Regions from separate parts of the Homo sapiens genome. Here region 1 is linked to region 2. Evidence: fine-mapped expression QTL. A gene starts in region 2. The other region holds a variant in brackets. All regions are shown on one strand. Distances are between the middles of the regions.

Region 1 (8,323 bases), 76 kb before region 2:
ATCCTCCTGGGAAGGGCAGGGTCCAGCCAGCCCTCTGCTCAGTGTGGCTCTGGCATGGATCAGCTGGGTGGTCCTGACCCCCAGTGGACCTGGTCAGGAAGGGAGGGAAGCTGCAGGGACATCCCACTGATCTTAGCATGGCCACCAAGGGACAGCTTCCTCTGGTGCATACCCTCCCCCACTTCCCTCTTGGTCAGAACCATGGCCCCACACTATGGCATTCCTGTAGGCAGAGCCCTAGGCTAGAACTAGGGGTGACAGCCAGGGTGAGAAAGAGCAGGGGTAGCCAGGTCAGCAGCCCCTCCAAGACTCTCCAGGAGACCAGTGTGGATGCAAAAGAAGGCAGGTTCAAAGTCAGCTCCTCCTCTAAGCCCCTCCTAGATAGGGCTCAGACTGAGGGGAGACACAGCCCTTACTCAGGGAGCCCCAGTCTGAGGGGAGATGCAGCCCTGTCCTCAGGGACCCCCAGTCGGAAGGAACTATCATGCTACTTGTCCTCTCTTGAGTTTCTTGTGTAACCCTGGGGGTTTTACTCAATATCTCAGAGCCTCTGTTTTCTTGTCTGTGTAATGGCAACATGGCCACACACCTCAAAGATGTTTGGTTCATGCCAGTCAGATCACAAAACCTGAGTAAAATGTAGCTATTCTTTTTCATTTGGAGTTTTCTTGTGGAAGAAATCATCGCATTTAGTCTTTCTTTGGAGAAGCCAGTTGCAGTGGGATCTTGTGTACCTCCCAGTCCTCTCCCAAAGACTAATGTCGTGATGGTCTGGCTGTCTTGACACACCTGGCCTTCCCAGGCAGCCCCAGGCTGGACATTTATAGTCAACAAATATTATGGAAAGTCAGCCATACAAGAGGCCCCAGGCCTGAGGACACCAGTGCAGCAGGGGTCAAGGCAAGCCCTGCAGCCACCCACCCCAGGCCAGTTCACTCCACAGCTATGGATGAAGCGGGGAGGAAGGCTCCCCCTTCCTCTCACTAGCTACCTGCCCCCCACCACTTGTCTGTTGACTTGGGGGACCCTCGACAGCTTCAGAGACTGGCTTCAGGGTACCTGGGGGATATACCCTCTCAAACCTGCAACTGTGAATGAGGATGGGAAGCTGCCAAGAGGTATACATGTGTGTGTGTGTCCAGCCCTGTCACAACTGAAGAGTGGAATTCCTTCCCACATGCACTGTACGATGATACCACACATGGCTGTCCCAGGGACCAAGGCTTTCTGTCCCTGGGACAGAGGGCCTAGAGGGCCCAGACTCTAGCTATAAATGCCCCCAGAAAACAGTCCGGTGGCTTCTGGTCATTTGCTTCTTAGGTACTTTGTAAAATTTATTCTTCTTGAGATGTTAGATTTGTGCATCAAATTGTACAAATCATTAAGGGTGCAGCTTGGTGAATTTTATGTAATGCCCACATAACCACCACCCGGTGCAAGCACAGAATGTTTTCAGCACCCCAGGAGGTTCCCTGAAGCCCCTCCCAGTCAATTCCACCTTCCAGAGGTAACCACTATTCTGACTTCTATCCCCATAGATCTGCTTTGCCTGTTCTTGAATCTCATGTAAATGGAATCATAGCATATGCACACTTTTGTGTCTGCCTCGTGCTGTGCAATATTATGTCTGTGAAGTTCATCCATGTTGCTCAAGTAACACTAGGTTTTCCTTTTGTATTGCTGAGTAGTATTCCATTAAGTGGATATGCCACAGTTTATGTACCTATTCTGGGACATTTAGGTTATTTCCAGTTTTTAATTAATATGATGCAAGCAGACACAGCATTCCTGTATGTTTTCTGGTGCTCCTAAATATGGCAACCCAAATCTTGAGAGCAGATTTTGAGGGCAACGCATGGTTAAGAACTCCAGGGAAGAGGAATTAAAAATGACTGGGCTCCTGCTCTGGGCCATGAGCTTTTGTGGATCCACTGGACCAATCACTAAGGAAGGAAGACAGAGAAAGAGCAGCTCCCAAGGGGAACTCCTCTGAGCTCATCACTGAGCCTGGAGCCAGCTGTGTGTGTGTGTGTGTGTGTGTGTGTGTGTGTGTGTGTGTGTGTGTGTGTGATTGGATTTGTTGCCGGGGCTGCCATAACACAGTACCACAGACTTGGTGACTCAGTAGTTTAAAACAACAGAAACGTATTCTCGCACAGTGAAGGAGGCCAAAAGTCTGAAATCAAGGTGTTGGCAGAGTCTGTTTCTTCCAGAGGCTCTGATGGAGATTGTTCCTTGCCTCTCTCCTTGCTTCTGGGGGCTGCCAGCACCTTGGTATTTCTCGGCTCATAGCTGCATCACTCCAATCTCTGACTCCATCATCACATGGCCTTCTGCTCTGTGTCTCCATGTCTCTGTTTTCAAATCTTTTTCTCCTTATAAGGACACCAGTCACTGGATTTAAGGCCCACTCTAATCCAGTAAGATCTCATCTTAATTTGATTACATCTACAAACACCCTATTTCCAACTACGGTCACATCCCCAGGTACTGGGGGTTAGGACTCCAACTTATCTTTTTGGTGGGGATGGGGGGGCACAATTCAACCAACAACAGTGATTATGGCTGTGTGTCTGTGTGTGTAAGACTGAGTGTGCATGAGTGTGTGTATTAATGTGTATACGCGTGAGGGGTAGTGAGTGTTATGCACATGTGCTTGTGAGAACATGTCTGCGATGGTGTTTCTCGGTGTGCTTATGTGACTGTGGGCATGTACATATGAGCATGTGTGTATATGTGCTTCTGTTTCCACGACTTGGAGACCCTGCTGGATGAGCTGAGAAGGGCAGCAAGGCAGGACGGTGGCAACAGGTTGAAGAGGTGCTTGGGGCCAGCCAGGTGAGCAGGCAGGCCTTGCCTCATGAATCTGGAAGAGTAGCTGGTGGATACAGACTCTGAGAAACAAGGACAAGGATGTTTGTTGAGCTGGGATACAGGCTGGTAGGCCCAGGCAGTAGCTCCTGACAGCAGTGCCTGTTCCCAGGTCTTCTTTCAGGAATATTCCTAGAAACCCTCTCCACCCATGCTCCTGACCCTTGCATCCCATTTGCCTGGACAGAGAGGCACTGCCTGACTCCTCCCTTCCCAGGAATAAAAGTCAGCACTCAGTTACCTGTTGTGCCAGCCAGGTAGGGGCGGGGCAGGTAGCCAGTCCTTCCCTAGACCCACCCCCAGCCTAGTCCAAAGTAGCACCCAATCACCCATCCCTATGCCCTGCCATGCCTCTCAACTTGTATCTTGCACCTTGGCTGGGGCTGGACCCCAGAAATCAAAGAAAAACGGGGGGAGCATGTAGCAGTCAGGTAAGGTCCAGAATGAGGGCTTCTTATCTCCCTAGGGCAGCTCTCTTAGGCAAGCCCACCATCAAGCGACAGGATATTGGGAAGGTCTCCTCATAGTAATGTCAACTCAGGGCCTGCTCTGAGCCGGGTTATCTCATTTAAATTTCACAATCAGGCCAGGTGTGGTGGCTTTTGCCTATAAGCCCAGTATTTTGGGGGAGTGAGAGGTGACAGGGTGCTGGCAGTCCTCACAGCCCTCGCTCACTCTCGGCGCCTCCTCTGCCTGGGCTCCCACTTTGGCCACACTTGAGGAGCCCTTCAGCCCGCCGCTGCACTGTGGAAGCCCCTTTCTGGGCTGGCCAAGGCCGGAGCCGGCTCCCTCAGCTTGCGAGGAAGTGTGGAGGGAGAGGGGCGGGCGGGAACCGGGGCTGCGCG[C/G]GGTGCTTGCGGGCCAGCGCAAGTTCCGGGTGGGCGTGGGCTCGGCAGACCCCGCACTCGGAGCAGCCCGCCAGGCCCCACCGGCCCTGGGCAGTGAGGGGCTTAGCACCTGGGCCAGCAGCTGCTGTGCTCAATTTCTCCCCGGGCCTTAGCTGCCTTCCCGCGGGGCAGGGCTCGGGACCTGCAGCCTGCCATGCCTGAGACTCCTCCTGGCTCCGTGGGCTCCTGTGCGGCCAGAGCCTCCCCGACGAGCGCCACCCCCTGCTCCATGGCGCCCAGTCCCATCCACCACCCAAGGGCTGAGGAGTGCGGGCGCACAGCGCCGGACTGGCAGGCAGCTCCACCTGCAGCCCTGGTGCAGGATCCACTGGGTGTAGCCAGCTGGGCTCCTGAGTCTGGTGGGGACGTGGAGAACCTTTATGTCTAGCTCAGGGATTGTAAATACACCAATTGGCACTCTGTATCTAGCTCAAGGTTTGTAAACACACCAATCAGCACTGTGAATGCACCAATCGACACTGTATCTAGCTACTCTGGTGGGGACTTGGAGAACCTTTGTGTCAACACTCTGTATCTAGCTAATCTAGTGGGGACATGGTGAACCTTTGTGTCTAGCTCGGATTGTAAACGCACCAATCAGCACCCTGTCAAAACAGACCACTGGGCTCTACCAATCAGCAGGATGTGGGTGGGGCCAGATAAGAGAATAAAAGCAGGCTGCCCCAGCCCGCAGTGGCAACCCGCTGGGATCCCTTTCCACGCTGTGGAAGCTTTGTTCTTTTGCTCTTTGCAATAAATCTTGCTACTGCTCACTCTGTAGGTCCACGCTGCCTTTATGAGCTGTAACACTCACCGCGAAGGTCTGCAGCTTCACTCCTGAAGCCAGCGAGACTACGAGCCCACCGGGAGGAACAGACAACTCCAGACGCGCCGCCCTAAGAACTGTAACACTCACCGCGAAGGTCTGCAGCTTCACCCCTAAGCCAGCGAGACCACGAACCCACCAGAAGGAAGAAACTCTGAACACATCTGAACATCAGAAGGAACAAACTCTGGACACGCTGTCTTTAAGAACTGTAACACTCACCGCGAGGGTCCGCGGCTTCATTCTTGAAGTCAGTGAGACCAAGAACCCACCAATTCCGGACACAGGAGGATCGCTTGAGCCCAGGAATTCAAGACCAGCCTGGGCAACCCAGCAACACTCCATCTCTACAGAAGTTGTAAAATTAGCTGGGCGTGATGGGGCGCATCTGTAGTCCTAGCTACTTATCCTAGCCTTGGCGAGAGGATCACTTGAGCCCAGGAGGTTAAGGCTGCAGTGAGCCATGATTGCACCACTGCACTCCAGCCGGGGTAACAAAGTCAGACCGTGTCTCTAAAAATAAATAAATAAATAAAAATAAAATAAATTTGACAACCAAGTTTAAATGGTGTTCTCATTATTCCCATTTTACAGATGCAGTCACTGGGGCCCCCAAGAAGTTAAGTGATCTGCCTAAGATCACATGCCTTTGTTTATATGTGTTGGAATTTTTCAATTCTCTCTGGAAATCCACATCCTCCACCCCCAACCCAGACTCCAACACAACTGCTTCCACCACGGCCCACCTGCGTACCCCACACATATCCCTGAAGTGCAGACTTCCTCCCATCCTTCCCCAGGAAGATTCCCTGGTCTGTGGGGTAGCGAGTGTTGGGGTGGTCTCTCCTTCCCTCCCATGCTTCTAGATTCCTCTGTAGGGTCCCGGTTTTGTTTTTGGTGTGGCAGCAAGCTCACTGCCTTTTTGAGTACTGTATGTCAGTGAGTTTGCATGCACACACCTGGAGGAGGGATGTGTGGGCATGAGAGGTATCTGGGCAAGTGGGCTTACTTGCCCACCTGGGGCACATGTGGGTACAGTGCAGTGGAGCATACATTGCCTAGATTGTAACCGTGTGTGTGCCTAGACACAGGCAAATGAGCCCATGTGGGTGTTCATGAAGGGCCTGCCCCCTGCATGTTTGGGGGTCTGTAGAATGAGTCCCCATTTCTCTCCCCTTCCCAAATAACTGCCACCATCTTCAGTTCAGACTCCTGGGCCCCAGGTAAGGGGCTGGTGAAAACCGCCTGTGACTGGGGACAGAGACACCTGAGTCTTAAGCCCCACCCAGGCTGCTAGTGCCCTTGAGCAGGCATCACCCCACCCAGGCAGCGGGAGTGTCCTCACCCAATGGGATAGGGTGACATGGGGGAGGAGGTTTGAAGCGGGGAGAAGGCAGCGAGGCTTTCAGCTCCCTAGATGGGAGGCTCATTACCCTAGCACTCAGTAGGTTGTAGGGAAGGGGGACTGAGCCAGGACTTGGCACTGACTACAAAGGGTAGGGGCAGCCCCCAGCACTCCCGCCGCGGCAGGCCAGGGGAGGGGCTGTGACGTTTGGTGGCCTCATGCAGCTGAGAGGAAGTAGCTAATTGCCAACCTGATGACTGGCGGCTGAGGAGTGGGGTGATGATGCCACTGGCAGAAGCAGGCGCCCTGGCCCAAGGAGGAGGCCCTTCAGCAACGGAGTGGGCCTGCATTCTGCGGAGGGTGAGACTGAGGTGGCTGCAGTCAAAGGAGAAGGGGGCAGGGGTTTGTTGAGGCTGTGACCGTGGGAAAGCGCTTCTCCAGGGCTTCCCTCAGCTTCAAGGAGAAAGAGTTCAGAGGCCCTGAGGGGATGAAGGGACTTGTGAAGGGGCTTCAGGGGGATGGGTTGGGGGGAAGGAGGTTCCTATTCTTACTCCCCTTCTGCCTATGCTCCCCCAATGTTCCTGTCTCTCCCCTCCCCCACCTTGGCCCCCTCTTTGGCCCCTGTGGCCAAAGTTGTTGAGGAAGGAGGGAGTAGATGGAGGGCTCTTTTCACCAGAAGACCCCCAGGCACAAGCAGCCCACCTTACTGATGGTCAGAGCATCCAGAAGAAGTGGCAAGACTTCAGCTGTCCTCAAAGCAGGAAGACAGAGTGTTTCTGGCAGAAAGAACAGCACAAGCAAAGGTTAGGCAGTGGGGTCTGGAGAGGCTGGTGGAGGACTGGGGCTTGGCTTCAATGGTTATGAGAGGAGGTGGGCAGGATGTTCTGTACCAAGGGCCACACTGTCCCTTCCTGGAAGAAACAGTGGGTACCCAGCACCCAGAGCTTCTCCCACATGCTGGCCACCGCCTCTGGCCCCAGTAGACCTGGCCCTCAACTGCCTCAGCAAGCCTCACAGGTTGGGGACCCCACCCTCATTATTCTCAAGTGCATCAACCCCGAAGGACTGAAGCCCCGAGTCCCAATAAACAGGTCCCATCCATCCGTAGGCCAGTCCGCTGGGCCCCTAGCACCCCCTATGGGCAGGAAGCAACACTAATGGAGGAGGAGCCTCCAGCAGCCTGGGGTGGGGTGGGGGTGGGAGAGTGAGACGTGAGGGAGGAGAGAGACTTGCCCTCTAGGAAGCGGACAGACCATGCCTCAGGAAACCCCAGTGTCACAGGTCACAGACACTGACCTTGAAGCGTTACTCTCATGGGTGAAATTTAGCCCCTGTCCTCAGGAAGCTCCCAGTCTGACGGGGGACACATATAGTGCTCTCAGAGCTGCCTTCTTTAGGGTGAAACTCAGTATCTGGGCTTCAGGAAACTCCCAGTGTAAGGGGAGAGACACGACCCTGCCCTTAGGGATCTCTCAAATGAGGCATACCCACTGGACTTTCGGGAACCATCAATCTGTTTCCAGACATGGATTAGAGATTTCAATGCCTCAAGGGCTGCCAGGAAAAAAAATACAAGACGTCCAATTAAATTGAATATCAGATAAACAACGAATAATATTTTAGCATAAGTCTGTCCCATACAATATTTGGGACAGACTTACACTATTTAAAGTATCCAGTTTAACTGGAAGTCTTGTGTTTTTATTTGCCAGATCTGGTAACCCTAGGTGCCTCCAGTTTGAGGGAGGAGAGAGGACACCCCCTCCACCCCAGACATAGGAAAGCAGGTAAACACCTCAGCGTGCTCCGGAGGGCAGGGGTGGGGCAGGAGGAGAGTCCTGGGGCTCCGGCTCGCGGCAGTTTAAAATTCCTTCCAGGCCAGAGCCCTAATCCCTCGGTGCACAATGGCCGCCTTCTCCCCCGCCGCCCGCGCCCACGCCCTCCCCCGCGGGGCCGTGGCAGTGCCACCAAGGGCCTCTTTAAGCCCCTTTGAAGCCGCGGAGCCCCGCGCCGCAGGAGGCCCCGCCGCTATGCCAGCTATGCCAGCTATGTCCCTGCTGCCGCCGGCCGCCACCGCTCCCCCATTAATGCTGGCTAATCTGGCTAATAAATAAACTCCCCTCCCAGCCCCAGCCCCGCGCCGACTCCTCCCCGCCCCCGCAGAATCGATGTCAGGGCTCGACTAGAGCAAGCGCCCGCACTCCACCCCACTCCCTCGAGATGTAGCTGACGTTTTTTCTTATGGCTGCCCTAGGTCTGTAGCCCGTCGGGGATTCTCGGGGAGACGTGGGATTTGGGAGGTCTCCGCCTAGCCACTGCGTTTGCCTTCCTCTTTTCCAGTCCACCTGCGCACCAGGGGCAGGACACGTGGCTGGGTGCAGACGCTGGCCCGGATGT
Region 2 (8,323 bases):
CTATTAATGGACTTAATGTTGCTTCCAGTTTTTCAGGTTTGGAAGCAAAACTGCAATGAACACACTTGTATGTATACTTTGAACACTTGTGACATTTATAACAGTGCATCTGATAAATTCCTAGATATGGAACCCTCGAGTCCATGGTTTGTGAATTAATTCTTCTCATGTATACTGCCAATCCCCTTCACAGGTGCAACTGTCCTCCCCCCCAGCTCTGAGGATGTCTGTGTCCACACAGTGAGGGGTTGCCCATTTTAGTTGTTGTCAATCAAATTGGCGAAAAGAGAATCTTCTCATGTCTTCATTTTGATTTCTTCTATTTTGACTGAGGGTGAGCATTTTCACCTGCTTGTTAACCATTAGTATCCCCTTACCGGTTTATGTGCTTTGCCCATTTTTCTATTCGTTTTTATTTTCCTTATTGACTTGTAAAAACTCATCGGTCATCTATGTTAAAAATATTTTTTCCAGACGGTTGTCTTTAGAATTCAGGATATTACATTAAAAACACATTTTTTTTTCAGAGATGGAGTCTCACTGTGGTGCCCAGGCTGGCCTCAAATTCCTGGGCTCAAGTTATCCTCCCACCTCAGCCTCCCAAGGAGCTGGGACTACAGGCATGTAACACAACACCCTACGTCATATTTTAATACAGCCAATTTTAAAAAATTCTTTCCCTTTGTGACTCCTAGGTTTTGTGTCAAACTTTCCCCAATCCAAGAACATACACTTTTAGACTTTCAGATGTTTTCTTCTAGTAATTTTATGGTTTCCTTTTTACATTTAAATCTTCACTCCATCGGGATTTATTTCAGAATAAGAGATGAAGTGGGGAGCTGGATTTCTTTTTTTTCCCCCTTAACAGCTAACCAGTTGTCCAATTTGATTGAATAATTCATCTTTTCTCCTCTGATCTAAAATGTCATTTTATCATATATTTAATTTCCATTTGTTCACGGGTGTGTGTCTGGCCTCTACTCTGCTCCTTTGATCTGCCTGTCTGTTCTTGTGCCAGTACCCAACTATTTTATTATTGGAGCTTTCTACAACATTTTAGTAGCACTAGTCGTCCCTTATAATACTTCTTTTTCAGGATTTTCCAAGCTCTTTTTGCATGTTTATTTCTCCAGATGAACTTTAATATAATTTGTCAAGTTCAAAAGATCTCGTTGTTTTTCACATCTTCCAACAGATGTGATTTTCGGACATCTCAGCCCACAGCCAAACAGAAACAAGTTGAGAATAGGGTGGGTTTGGTGGTCTGCCCTGGAGGCAGGCAAAGTGATGGTAACAGAAGTGATAGTTTATACGGAGAGAGTTGATGAAGTGATAAAGTACTATAAAAGTAGACACAAGAACTACGAAAATGTAGCCTTCATGGAATGAGCCGTTGGTGTGGGGCCAAAAAAGGCCTTGGATTTTCACTGTATTACAACCAGGATACTGATGGACCCTTGTAACCACAACCCTGAGTCATGAAGACTCACATGTTCTGTAACCTCTGATTAAAAGCCCGGAAAGCGTGTAATATCCACTAGTGATTCCTATCCAAAATATCTCTTTTTAAGGTTTCAGATATTAATGTCTGGAAAACTAGTATGAAATGGTTCATTCTTGGATGGTGACATAAACATGACATGTTACTGGCCTCTTTACAGTTTTCTCAAAGCCCACCTTCAAATTCCAAGGAGCTGCCAGCTCCGGGATTTGAATTCACTCTATCCATGGAAACAAAGCTGAGGGAAATGTCCCCAGACTTTCAGCCAGTTCAAACACAATAATAAAAAAAGGTTTACCTCATACATGCCTCCAACATATGAGGCATGTTATAGGCAGATTATATTTTAATCCTCAACAGCCCCGCTGGGTGAATGCTGTACTCCCATTACACAGAAAACTGAGGCTCAGAGGGGTCAAACAACTGGGGCCAGTTTAAGTTAGTACGTGACAAAGAGCTCTCAGCTACCTCCACCTGCACATTCCACAGACCAGTCCCCTTCAGTTCACTCCCACAGGGAGGTTCAAAACACCACCGACCCTATTCAGACATCCCTTTGCAAGGCCCTGTCACCTGTCTTGCCCAATGCCCACCTAGCCAGGAGAGCCAGGATGCACAGTGAGGAAGGTGGAATGAGGTGCCAACGTAGCCCATCCAGGGAAGGAAGACAGCCCCCCCCCCCCGGCCACCCACTTGCCAGTGGCCCAGGTGGCAGGCCAGCCACTTGCCAATCCCCTTCCTGATCAGGGATTCAGGAAGTGAAGAGAGTGCCCCTGGAAGTCAGGAGACACCTCCAAGATGAAGGCCCTGCCTGCCATAGCCTGACACAGCCTCCCTGTACTCCCTGGGTTGTCCCAGGACGCAGACTCTGTGCTTACCATACCACACCTTTGTCAGTGGTGTGGGCAGGGCCCAGCAGAGTCCTGGACACCCCAGGGAGTAGGAGCTGTGCAGGTAACATAGGAGGGGGTGAAAGGGAAATGAACTCCCTTGGGAGTTCCCCATCCCAGAGGAAATAAAAGTCAAAGCACTCCTTTGTTTTTTCTTCCCAAGCCCTTATAAGGGGCTTTATGGGGCTTGCCTAGGTTTGAGGTGCAGCAGAGGCAGGCGGGTGAGGGCCTCCAGGCTGAGAGATCCTGGGGCAAAAGTGAAACTATATGGTCATGAACACGGGCATGTTCTGAACTCTGTGAAACCCTAGCCCAGGACCTGGCTGACTGTACAATCCGTCACCCGGCACACCGTAACAGAAGACCCTACTACGCGCAGAGGACAGTACTATTGGGGTGGCAACTGAAAAGGGTCCTGGCTGGAGGCGGGGTTTGCTGGAGGGGTAACAGAGCGTGCGCGGAGTGGAGAGGGTACGGAGGCTCACCGCCCAGCATCCCCAACCCCGGCGCTCAGAAGAGCAGCGCGCTCCGGAGCTCGGCGCGCGCGATCAAAGCCGGCGCCGCACGCGCACGCGCGCCCGCAGCCGCTCCCCCGCCCGCGCCGCTCCGGCTCCCGCGCGCGCGCACTTGAGGCCTCCCTTGTGCGTCTCCTCCATTCGCTACGTGCAGAATGGTCCGTCGGCAGCAGCTGCAGCGCTGGGTGGGAGGGGGAGGAGGAGGGGAGGGGGAGGCGGCGCCCAGGTCTCGGGGAGGGGCCGCGGCGGCCCTGGAGATAGAGGGGTGGGGGCGAAGGGGTGGGCCCCCGCAGCGGGGAGGACAGAGGGAGAGTCCGGGTGGGCTCGATGCTCAGCCTTCCCCCTCCCCCGCTCCCGCTTCTTTCTGCGAGGCCATTACGGCCATCTCCCGGCCTGAGCCTCCTGGAACCAAGCCGACCAAGAGGGGTTTCCTCCGTGTTGTCTCGTCCCCAAAACCCAGAATCCAGACCCAAGAAAGAACCACTCCTGCTGACCCCTCCTCCCGCTACCCGTCCCAACCGCATTCCCAAGCTTTCGTGGAGGTGACCCAACAGCAAGCACTTCCCCACTCCGCCTTTCATGGGGTGGGGTCCCTAAGAGGTACTGCAGACTAACTCCTCTTTTCATCTCTTACCCCACCTGGAGGAAGAGGCATGGCCAGGATGGACACCAGAGCACATTTCCCAGCATTTCCAAGGGGAAAGGGCAGCATCTCAGCATGCAGACTCCAACATGGCCACAGAAAGGTCGAGTGGCGCAGAGGAGCAGGCTGCTGCCCAGGCCCCTAGGGCCACTTCCAAAGGAGTGTGACCACGACTAGGTTGCTGTGGACTCACTCGCATTACAGGGCTGCGCCCTATACACCTGTTTGTAAAGGGTCCTCCTAGAATGTAATGGTGAGGGACCACCAAGCGGTGGACCAAGAATTCCAAACAGACCAGCTCCCTGCCTTGCCAGGAAACCAGATGTGGCCCAGATGTCCATAGCAGTTCCTCCCACAGGGTGGGACACCAGCTATTCTGTGCAACCCCTCCCAACCCTTCTTCCAGGGTCAGGGAGGAAAGCTGGCAACCTCCGTTGTCCCTTCCCATTTGGGTTGCTAGAAGGGAGCAACTCACTCATCCTCCTCTTCCTGCCAAGAGCCACCTGGGCTTACCTCTCCAGCAGCCACCTAGGTTCAACCTGTGGTCTAACCTCAAGCCCTCTGCTGACAGGTTAAGTCAAGATCGCCGGGAAGGAAGGCGTCCAGTTTCATTACACACACAGACGTACACACACACCCGACACCGACCCACGCGCCTGGGCTCTGCACAGTGGCTAGACCCCAAAAAGCCGATTCTCCTGTTCCCTCCGTGGTGGCCTCAGTCTTTTGGCGGCGCCCTCTGCTGGCCACTAGGAAGTGCAGGAAAAAACAGTCTGCCCATAGACGCTTGGTGGATCTGGGAAAGGGGACAAGAGGCAGAGAAACAAGTGAAAAGTGGGAGCTGAGAGCAGCGCTGGGCTGGCCACAAACAAGCGAGGCATGGTGACGCCTTCCTGGAGGTGGGGAGTTTTGAGCCAGCTTTCCATGGGCCTAGGGAGACAAGCCGAGCTGGCAGATAGGGGCTCAGGACACCCCAGGAGTGGCCCTTCCTGTGTGCTGAGCCCTACCCCTGTCCTGGATGGCTCATACACCCACTAACTCATATGGCTGCTGTGCCCTGCTTGGGAGTCCTTCCTGTCAGCCTCTATTGGGGTGGTGGGTGGGGAGGAGCAGCCATGGAAACCCTGATCCTTCTAGTCATAGTCTGGCTCCCTGGGGCTGTGAGAGGTGTCCCCAAAGAGAAGCCTCCAATTGACAAACCTCTGCTCCACCCCACCCCACATACACAGAGGATGGCCCAAGCCCAGGTCCCTGGCATGGTGGGGCAGGGGCCTGAGTCACAGCCTGGCGTGACCCTGCCCAGTCCCCAGGAATGGCCAGCTCGTCCAGAGGTGAGACCCAGGTCAACAATCCATCAGTCTGCCTCCTGCCACCAGGTATCCTCCCCATCACGTCCTACACGTGGGGTGGGCCAGGACAGTGCTGGGCAGAGCTAGTGTTGGGCCTGTGCCTGGGGGCCACCAAGGGGGCCCGGAGAAAAGAATGGAGGGGTTTTCACTTCCTGAGCAGCAGGAGGAGCCAGCTGGGGTTAAAGACAGGAGGGACTGGTTGGGCCTACAGGCATTTGGAGTCTCTCCCTGCCTGCTGGGTGAGGGAGGCAGCAGGTGCCAAGAACTGCTAGCTTCTAGGACCTGACCCTCAAGTTGCTTCTCCTGCTGAGGGGCTTCTAGGGTCACCCTCAGGGCCTTGACATCTGCACACATCTGCACAGGCCCTTCACCAGGGACTTAACCTCCAAAGGCAGCTCCTGCTCCCAGCCTTCACAGGCCCCCCTAGGGCCCAAGTCCCCAGACCCAACCTCAGTCTGCAAGCTGGCCAAGTCAGAGGTCCTGGCTGCCTGGACCACTCCCAAGCAGTAAATGGCACTGTGGGCTTCCTCCATCCTGTCTTCCCCGCCCCACTTCATTGATTCACTGACTTCCAACTTACTGGTCAGGCCCCCTTCCAGACCCTGCCTGGATGAAGAGGACTCCCAGAAGCAGTGATTGAAGGCCTAGGAGGATACAGAGAGCCAGGTGCTTTAATTGGAGGTAATTAGTTAATTTACTCTGAAAGCAATGGGGCAGGGCGGGGACAGGGGGAGGAGAGGGGAGGGGAGGAGGTAGGGGGCTGTGACCTAACTGGGCTCAAACTCTCAAACTCTGGTCAGCCTCCTTCTGGACCACAGCAAACCTGTGTGTACCCACCCACTTAGGAGACCCTCTCCTGGGCCCCAGGTCAGAGCAAGACCCAAAGTGGACTAGGGTGGCTCTGCAGAAAAAGCAGGTGCCCTGGGGTGGTGGGAACAGGCCTTTTGAGGTTAGGGAGGTGTGGACTGGCATGAGGGAATTGGAGAGGTGCAAGGAGCTCTGGGATGGGAACTGGTCCCTCTCCTGTCACGTATAATTCCATCCCTCCCAAGGTCATTGCTGTCACCCAAGTTAGGGGCCCAGCCCCCTCCTTTGGTCAGTGAAGTCCCAGGGCAGCCCATTTTAAATACAACGGGGCCTGAAGGCTAACTTCTGGCCTTCCTGCTTCGGGAAATCATTCCAATAACCGGGAAAAAAGGGGGCCCGAGGACAGAGCCCCTGCCGGGCCCCAGGGGGAGTGTCGTCGGCTCCTTTGCGTCGCCGGCCGGCGGCGTGGCGGGGACTCTGGCCGGCAGCCTCCCGCGCCGTCCGGAGCAGCTGACCCGCTGGCGGTGGGCCAGGTCGCGGCGGGGCCTGGAGGCAGCAACGTGCGGCGCGGCATGTCGCGGGCGCCGCGGCAGGGAAATGTGGGGGCGGGCCGGCGCGCCCCCTCCCCCCCGCCTACGCTGGCCCATTCATAAAACCTGCAGGCGCTGCCCGGCCTGGCAGCCTTGGTCTCCTAATTGCAAACTCATTAAGGAGTTTGCATCTCATTTGCATGGAAATCATTTCCTGGCCCTAAACAGAGAAACTTCCCGCCCCTCCACCAGCCCCTCTCTGCCCTGCTTTACCCATGCACAGTCTGGGAGAGGAGAGGGGGCATATCTCTGACCTGCGCCCCTTCCCTGGCCTCACCACCACCCTCCCACTTTAGGAGTTGGGGAAGGGATTGGCAGAACACCCACCCAGCCAGGAGCCCTGCCTGTGCCCCAGGTGAGCCGGCCCTGCCCTAGTGGGTCCAACTGAGGGGAGGTGCCTGCCAAGTCATTTGCCCCCCGGCCTGGCCGTGCCCAGGGAAGGGAGGAGGCGGTCGGCAGTTGGCCCCAGCAGCTGGTTGTACCTGGCAGGAGGTGGGTGAGGCTTTTCGTGCCCAGCCTCACGTACGTGCCCTGCCATAGGCCGTGCCCCCACCCCCACACCCCTCACCCCACAGAACAAGCGCCTAGTGACTGCAGAAACAGACACCCAGTCATGGCACACAAAGGCACCCACACCAGGCCAGCCATCATGGCTGCCCCCCTGGCAGCCACCCTGGAGGGCAGACAGATGCCTTCACAAGCCATTTTGTCTTTCTCCAGCTTGGTGCCAGGACTGGGGGTGGGGGAAAGGGTTTCTCCTGAGACTTCTCTGAGTAAGGGGGCCCACAGAGGGGTTTCCTTATGTACCCCAGCTGTGGCCTCTTGCCCCCTCTCTCCTGTAACCCATGTTTACAGAGGCCTCCAAGTGCTCTACCCTGCATGGGGACCTGCCCAGGCGAGGGGGTCACAGGAGCCTCCAACCCAGGAGGGGAAGTGAGAGATAAAGCCCCTAAGGAAGGGACACCTAAGTGCCTCCCCAACCAGGGTCTGTCCTTCGTGTCCCAAGTGTGTGTAGTGGAGGGAGTGCTCCCCAGTTTCCTGGGGGTTGAGGTGGGGCGGTATTCTAAACCTTTGGAAATGGAATAGAACTACCTAAAGTATATGAAATTAGATACTACTTGGGACACTATGTCTTGGTTCTGTATGTCCTGGGACAGTGTAAAAAGTGATCACAAAATTTTCAACATCACAGTCTAAAATAAAAACCTGCCTCTTGTCTGCCTCCTCAGACATAAACCTGCTTACGCTTCCCATCTGCCCACACTCCCACCTGCTGTATCTGAAGTTTCTCCCTTCCTTTGCTAGGGCATAAAGGGGTGGGCAAGGATGTTCTGGAACACTGACCACACATCCGTCCTGAGTATGGCTGGACTGACCCTACCCTCCCAGCTCCTGGAGCAGTTGGGTTCCAAGTGCCATATGTGTGCGTGGTTCAGGGGTACTGGAAGAAAGTTTTAGAATGCCTATTTATTTTTCATCGAATCCTTTTTTCATTTAGTGTGAGTGTGTTTTACAAGGTAAACTATATAAAAACATACTCATCTGACGGGTGCGTACTCAACAATCTTTTTTATTGCTAAGGGCACATGATCAAAAAAACTTCGGAGGTCACTGGCCTAGACTTCAGGTGGGGCAGCTGTGGGCAGGGGATGGCTTGTCTTGTCCATCTAAGTATCCAGCCTGACACATGACTAGTTCAGAGCCTGGCAGGGAGCAGAGGTCAGGGACACAGTATTGAATGAATGAAGTCCACCCCTAGAACTGACAGATGAGGAAACTGAAATAATTCTGGGGCGGGGAGATTGCTCAGAGGAGGACATGGGCAGGTTGAGAGAGTCTCCCCTCATTGCTGCTATGTCTGCAGCCTGCCCGTGTCCAACACCCAGCACCCACACAAACCTTACTTCTACCCACCCCAGGGAGCACAGCTCCCTCCTCTGCCTACCAGCAGAGTGGCCACCTGTCTTGAGCTTCTTACTGGATCCTGATTAGCAGAGCCAGACAGGGTTGTCACCTGCCATATCCCTC

What was found.
Region 1: its variant is fine-mapped to the expression of SCIRT in left ventricle (GTEx, PIP 0.98). The same link has a PIP of 0.9 or more in atrial appendage, prefrontal cortex and testis.

The regions. Positions count from the first base shown.
Region 1 is chr6:43,994,415-44,002,737 of GRCh38, forward strand. SCIRT (stem cell inhibitory RNA transcript) reads right to left here. Exons shown (of 5, transcript NR_125864.1): 2 at 6,629-6,702; 3 at 6,177-6,301; 4 at 4,804-5,094; 5 at 1,309-2,894. It overlaps LINC03040 (long intergenic non-protein coding RNA 3040), which reads left to right and starts at 6,171. Exons shown (of 3, transcript NR_160956.1): 1 at 6,171-6,286; 2 at 7,639-7,713; 3 at 8,267-8,323. LOC124901321 (a long non-coding RNA gene) reads left to right here. Exons shown (of 2, transcript XR_007059591.1): 2 at 4,537-5,140. RefSeq lists enhancers at 1-3, 6,278-6,427. The variant C/G (reference allele first, on the strand shown) is at 3,717.
Region 2 is chr6:44,070,435-44,078,757 of GRCh38, forward strand. SCIRT (stem cell inhibitory RNA transcript) reads right to left here and starts at 4,218. Exons shown (of 5, transcript NR_125864.1): 1 at 4,063-4,218. RefSeq lists enhancers at 2,629-2,688, 2,729-2,828, 3,849-4,108, 5,229-5,298 and silencers at 2,909-2,988, 3,079-3,338.